Linked DNA regions of Homo sapiens. The protein of the gene in region 2 purifies or fractionates together with the protein of the main gene of each other region. This does not show direct contact. Each region holds a gene or a part of one and is shown on either strand. Other genes may lie near its edges.

The links.
Region 1: the proteins of TANGO6 (region 2) and SLC31A1 purify together in Homo sapiens (co-immunoprecipitation; one large-scale study listed by IntAct). This does not show direct contact.

What each region holds. Positions count from the first base shown.
Region 1 is NC_000009.12:113,224,335-113,228,158, reverse strand, and holds part of SLC31A1 (high affinity copper uptake protein 1), read right to left. Parts: intron 1-3,824.
Region 2 is NC_000016.10:68,926,719-68,930,542, reverse strand, and holds part of TANGO6 (transport and Golgi organization protein 6 homolog), read right to left. Parts: intron 2,976-3,824; coding exon 2,460-2,975; intron 306-2,459; coding exon 248-305; intron 1-247.

The DNA.
Region 1 (3,824 bases), on a different chromosome or scaffold from region 2:
GACCCACATTTGCCATATACTAGCCATGTGACATTAGGCAAATCACCAAAATTTGCAAAATTTGCAAAACAGATATTAAAATACCTACGCTGCCAATCTCATAGTATTGTAAGGGTCAAATAAAATATGTTAAATACTTTCCAATTTTAAGGTACAGTAAATATGAAATATAATAGCTTGCTTGCTCATTAGATGACAAAATTAATCTCTGAAAGGAACTAAGTCACACATAAGGCTCACTTTCATGTTTCTTGAAGTATACAGCCTTTCACAGTTTGATTTAAACAAAACTAGCTAGTCAGACAAATATACATTGGCAAAGCATTGCTTTAACTGCTTTATTGTTATAATCAAATGTAGACAATGGTCCTCCTTGTCTAAACTTTGCTTTAGTTATATTACATAGCATTTAAACTGTTTGGATAATAATGTTGTTGGTTTGCCTATGAGTAATATTGGAAATTAATATGGCATAAGACAGAAACTAGAAAACATTTGAACTGTTCCCTTTTTTTTATTCAGTAGGAAAATGCAATTAAATATGTTACACAAGATAAAAGGAACTTGAATGATTTAATGAAAATGCAGTACAAGAATGCAAATGAGGCTGGACATGGTGGCTCATGCCTGTAATCCCAGCACTCTAAGAGGCCAAGGTGGGCAGACTGCTTAAGCTCAGGAGTTTGAGACCAGCCTGGGCAACATGGCAAAGCCCCGACTCTATCAAAAATACAAAAAATTAGCTGGGCGTGGTGGTGCATGCCTGTAGTCCCGGCTACTCGAAAGGCTGAGATGGGAAGATTGCTTGAGCCTGGGAGACAGAGGTTGCAGTGAGCTGAGATTGTGCTCCTGCACTCCAGCCTGGGCAACAAAGCAAGATCCTGTTTCAAGAAAAAATAAAAGAAAAAAGAAAAAAATTGTTCAATATCTCAGATAGAGGCTGTATGGTGTGGCAGTAAAAGTACTGGGCTAGGAACTGAAAGAGGTTCTACATCTGCATTCTAGATCTGGCTCTTAGGTCTCATTTGCTATGCAATTTCAAGGAACTCAGACTATTCTTTCACTATTTATTGCATACCTATCGAATGAAGGTACCATGATGAAACTCTAACCATAAGAAACCCATTCTGGTGAAAGAGGGACACATGTAAATAATTTAAAAATAATGTAAAATGTACTAAGGTATAGATTATGCATAGGGGTTGTGTGAGAACTCATAAAAAGCCATCAGAAAAGGTAGGAGAGAGGATGCGGGTGTATGAGTTACACCATTTCCCTTTCATTTCATAAATTAAATGACTACATTCTAGATGCTGTAAACTGCTTCAAAATTATATAAACACTCATCATAGTTCTACAATAACTCTTCTATCTAGGGAAATATGTCACCTGTTGCTAGAATTTTGCTCTCTTTATATGTTCCCTCCAAATCATTTCTCATATTTACTTTTGAGATTCAGGCTTCCATCTTACCATGCTGTATTTCATAATGTCCTAAGCCTACAAAAGCAGGTTGTATACAAAAGCCTAGGGCCATTGTGTAAAGGAAAAGAGGTAGGGTGGACCCTTCTCAACCCTTTCCTTCTCTGCAGGGCTTTGCATTCCTAAGGATGGGCCCCTCCTCTGCTTGGGGATGTTACCTAAATCATAAAATGATATTACTCAAAGCAATGGAACTTCAAAAGCATTTCCTTCCCAGGCCCTACTATAAGATTTCTTTTGGCATAAACTGTTCATTGTAATGTATTAAGTATCAGACTTTTGATGACTTGTTATACTTAAGTCACAAAACTACAGAAAACTTTTAAGTTTTTAAAATGGATTTAAGAGCTGCATGTGGGAGTACAGGCATCAGGAACCCCCTACCCCTTCCCTCCCTTTTCCCCAGTCAGGCCTGCCCTGTCCACTTTAAAATGCAGTTATTTGGGTGATGCCCTGTTACTAACTTAACTGACAACTGCTAGTTGAAATCAACTTGTCACTGTAAACACTTTGCTTTCTTTATTTCTTTTTTTTTTTTTTTGAGATGGAGTCTCACTCTGTCGCCCAGGTTGGCGCACAGTGGCGTGACCTCAGCTCACTGCAACCTCCGCCTCTCCGGAGCTCAAGCAATTCTCGTGCCTCCGTCTCCTGAGTAGCTGGGACTACAGGTGCCCGCCACCATGCCTGACTAATTTTTGTATTTTCAGCAGACACGGGGTTTCACCATGTTGGCCAGGCTGGTCTCGAACTCCTGACCTCAGGTGATCTGCCTGAGCTGGGATTACAGGCGGGAGCCACCACACCTGGCCGAACACTTTGCTTTTCTAGTGATTATTATATCATCTTTCTCTCTTGTAGCACTTCTGGTGGGAAAGGTGCAAAAAGGAATTAACAGTAGAGATGAGTCTCTGATTCCTAAGTCCTTCTCTACCAAGACTTCCAAGTTGGACAAAAGAGGTAGAGAAAGACTTAGGAATCAAAGACTCTTATGAGTATGGTATCTACTTTCAAAACAGTCATTTCATTTTATTCACATTTAGTATGGAAACTTTATTTTTCTCAATTCAAAATTGAGATTATAATCCAAAGGAAAGCTGAATTGAAAATTTTAACAGATTAATACCAGTGCCCCAAGTGGTGTTTACCATGCCTTCACAACAACCTCATGTTCTAGGGGCCATTAGAAAATGAAGTGGCTACTGACATGGAATGGAGCTAGGGAAATGTAACTTTTTACTTCATACACTCCTAAGCCATTTGAACTTTTTTACATCAATCATGCCATTTAGAATAAAAAATTCCACTTCCTACCAATCTAAGTACAAACTTGTCACCTTGACCTTCAAGGTATTTGACAAATATGGTCCTGGATTCCTTTTCAATTTTAATCCATTACTTTCTTCTGTGAACTGTTGCCTTATACTCTTAGCAAACTATCCCACAGAACTCTCTTATCCAATTTAACTGACATCACACCATTAGGCTATTCTCCAATGTGATGGGAACAACACTTCTGGTTCCCCCTCTGTGAAGTGTGCTTATCAATGGTGACAGTGTGTTTATTCACAAACCTATTTATGCCAGTTGTGCTTATTACTGAAAGTACGTAAATACTATGTAAAGCAATGAAGTATAAATGAGAAGAGAAAAATGACAGCAGCAATTAACACTGAGTACTTACTACCTGCCAGGCACTGTTCTAAATGCTTTACATGAATTAACTCCTATAATATTCACAAGAAACCTAGAAATGGATACTACCATTATGCCTGTTTTACAAAGGCAAAAACTGAGTAACTTGTCTATGGCCTATACAACTAATAAGTGGCAAAGCAATTTGGCTCCAGAGCTCAAGTACTTAACTACTGTACTACATAGACTCTCTAGTAGTTATTTCTAAAACACCACACTGAATGCTTTCGAAAGACCAGATAAAAGTGAGCACACAAGGCCGGGTGCGTTGGCCCACGCCTCTAATCCTAGCACTTTGGGAGGCCAAGGCGGGTGGATCACCTGAGGTCGGGAGTTCCAGACCAGCCTGACCAACATGGAGAAACCCCGTCTCTACTAAAAATACAAAATTAGCCGGGCATGGTGGCACATGCCTGTAATCCCAGCTACTCGGGAGGGTGAGGCTGGAGAATCGCTTGAACCCGGGAGGTGGAGGTTGTGGTGAGCCGAGATTGTGCCATTGCATTCAAGCCTGGGCAACAAGAGCGAAACTCTGTCTCAAAAAAAAAAAAAAAAGTGAGCATACAGATAACACATAAACTTGCTGTTAGGTGTGGGAGACAACAGAAAAGTCTGGAAGGACATTTCATAAACACCTAGAAAGATTCTGC
Region 2 (3,824 bases):
CTACAGAATATGTAAACATTAATAAAAACTTCCTCATCATTATGAGACACTGAAACTCTATAGGGACTCTTTGGAAACCCTTCAGGAATATTATTATTATGACTTAAAGTGTCCTAGCTAGGAGGCAGGAAGACGGACAAAATGACCAGTAGTCTCCTGGCCCTAGGACTTTAGAGATTTTGTGCAAATAAACATGATACAGTCTCTGGTCCACATACTTAAAGTCCTTTAACCAGGACTGACTTACCCTGAATTGCAGATAGATATACAAAAGTGTCTTCATGTTCCAAGTTTTCCAAGAATATCTGGAACCACAAAATACAGCAGTGATAAGATTTACAAAGAACAAGGAAGATTTAAGAGGCTCCCTTATCAGCAGCTCAAAGGAGTAAATGCTTCGCTTCTTGTTTTTCTTGGGTAGAAACTGGTCTGACAGAGTTTTGTGGGGGAAATGGCATATATGCTTAAGTCTCATTTTTATAACCATTAAAAAAGTATAGAGACTGGGGGAGATACTTGTATTCTTCCAGCAGTAGTCCTGGAAACCGATGGAAGAACAATCCTCAACATTTTTCCATGACAGCCATGGTGAATAACATTCTCACATATGGCATGACAGACTACGGGGTGTGACACACAAGAGACAAGGTTTGGGGTTATGTGCAATGGATGGCACATTTGCTGCAATTTGATCCTTTTCTCTTGTACTCACAAAGCATATGGAAGTGCAAGTGAGATAGAGATGTTATTATTGAGATAACTTTGAATCTGTTCTAATTTATTTTTGAAAATCTTGTAAATTTCAGCACTTTAATTGATATTAGTAACAAATTACTCTCAAAATATCTTACAATTTAGGAACCTATCAGGGGTATCAACTACAGTGAGTACAGCTTATCTGGAAGATATTACATGATATGTTAGGTTTAGGCCCCAACATGAGAGCCAGAGAAAGGAAGACGGAAGTGTCTGCTCCATATATAATGCTGTGTTCTTCGTTGGCACAGTAATTCTTGACATCAACTTGATGCTGCTGGTCTCTACATGTGAAGTATGTACGGAGAGCCTAAAATTACCCCAGTTAGGAAGACGGCCAGTTTTGAAGGTAGGGAATCTTTTATGGAGTAAGCAAGGGAAGCTTAATTTAGGGTAATGGCCATGGAAATAAAGAGGATAAGATACATTTGAAAGACTTCTTTGAAAAAAGAATTGACAGGACTTGGTGACCAATTATGTACAGCAGAAGAAGGTTTAATTAAGCTAAAAAAAATTCCAAGATGTTCATTGAATTCACCTTCAAATAGGTGTATAAAAGGATATTTAAGGCCAGGCGCGGTGGCTCATGCCTGTAATCCCAGCACTTTGGGAGGCCGAGGCAGGTGAATCACTTGATGTGAGGAGTTCAACACCAGCTTGGCTAACATGGTGAAACCTCATCTCAACTAAACGTACAAAAATTAGCTGGGTGTGTTGGTGGGCACCTGTAATCCCAGCTACTTGGGAGGCTGAGGCAGAAGAATCACTTGAACCCAGGAGGTGGAAATTGCAGTGAGCTGAGATCGCACCACTGCACTCCAGCCTGGGCGACGGAGCGAGACCCTGTCTCAAAAAAACAAAACAAAACAAAACAAAAAACAGCTATTTCACCACGATGAAGGGAGAGAAGAGGGGAGGAGACCCAGTTTTGCCCAACGCCCCACTAAAGATGCCCAGAGAAAACAGGTGGCTTATCTGGGCTGGGTCACAGTGTTGAAGCAGACCTATTTATCACAAAAGGTACTTTCCCATCTCTGGGAATTTGTTCAAGCTATCCCACCCCTCTTTCATCTGCTCAAACTTTACTAGTTTGTTATGGCCATATTAAGGCCTACATCCTCCAGAAGATTTCAACTTTCTCTTTTTCCTGACTGCCCACAGCATTTCTTGCATGCAAAAATTTTGAAGGATGGGTGTGGTGGCTCACGCCTGTAATCCCAGCACTTTGGGAGGCCGAGGCAGGTGGATCACGAGGTCAGGAGATCGAGACCATCCTGGCTAACATGGTGCCCGTCTCTACTAAAAATACAAAAAATTAGCCGGGGGTGGTGGCAGACACCTGTAGTCCCAGCTACTCGGGAGGCTGAGGCAGGAGAATGGTGTGAACCCAGAAGGCGGAGCTTGCAGTGAGCCGAGATTGCACCACTGCACTCCAGCCTGGGGGACAGAGCGAGATTCCATCTCAAAAAAAAAAAAAAAAAAAAAAAATTGGCACTCAGTTCATATTCATTTGAGGAGTTTAAGTCTTTCCTGTGTCTAAATAAATCTTTCCTGTGTCTAAGTGTTGCCTCCTCACAAAATTCACAAATTTCTGGAGGGTGGTCCAGAACAGCACTTGACACATAGTCCAGGCTCCAAAAATACTTGAGTTGAATGAATGCCCCACCCTGTGCCCATGTGTCTTTACAGTGTGTTCTACTCACCTTGAGAAGCTTCTCTTGCATCTCAAGGGCTTTTGCTTCTCTCTGCTCTATCCAGTGGGAAAGAGTACGCAGGGCAGCAGCCCGTGTTGGAATTTGAGGGTCATAAGCTGACAAAAGAACCTCTTGGAGCTGTTCTGTGGTTACGCTTCCAGATTTCTGACTTGTAGTAGTGCTGGGCTCATTGACTCCTTGAGGAATGATTGGAGCATTTGACTGCAGGCCTGTCTGGGGGGCTGTCTCATGGCTCTGCTGTTGTTCAAGGTGGCTATGAGCTACATCAGTGGGTCTTTCATGACTGGTTTGTTGCTGCTCTTCTATTTTCCCTTCCAGATCTTTTCTGTTCAGTGTACTTTGGGCAGCCATGCTGACGGCCTCAGTGGCAAAGGCTCCATGGGTAGAGATGGTGATGCGGAGATCAACAGCGAGTTCTTGGATGACCGGATCAGGGTATGTGTTGGATACCTTCTCCAACAGAGGCAACAACTGCTTCAGAACAGCAAAATCACTTGACTTCAACTACAAAATGAAATAAAAAATGTCAAACCCAAATTAACATAGCAAATTTCAATATGACCTGAGCACCAGGAAACATATTCTGAGAAAAAAGGGCAGGGATCAAATCTTGCTCATGGTGTAATCAGTGTATTGCCTGGGTCCAGCACTGAATACCATTTGTTGAATAATCATACCTAACATTTATTGAACACTTATCATATACAGGTTCTTTTCTAAGATAAAACACACACACACACATTCATATCCTTGTGATATAATGACTATTATTATCTACATTTTAAACAGGTGGAAACAGAACGGTTAAGTAACATGCCCAAGGTCACAGACTGGAAGATAGTAAGATGTGAACTCAAGAAACTGGGATCAGAGCCCACACTCTCACCCAATACCCTACGCAGTCTCCCTTGAAAAGATAAGGCTGTTCTTAACTACATGATCTAAAGTGGCCAGTCAGTATGCAAGTGCACCATAGATCTGGAAGGGATCACAGAGAAAACGGGAAGAAAGGGATTTCTTCTGGAAAGTGGAAGTGAAAATTATATAACATTTTATTCTCCATGGAAGCTTTGTCTGAATAATGTCATATGCCTTACTACTAAGAAAGGTGCATGAGTGTTACAGCTCTATTAGAATTTGTCTAGCAGGTTTTCTGGTCTTCACTGGAAAGCACCCCCCTCACCCACTGCCACCCAAAAGGTGTATGTGTGATCAATGAAAAGTAAGAATCAATGGTAATACTTTTCTGTTTGAAAACACTGGAGAAATTATCAGATGAGGCTTCAGGAGACCCTGAAAATTTGAATACCTTAAGGATCTTAAGTCCTTTTTACTGGCCAACATGGCGAAACC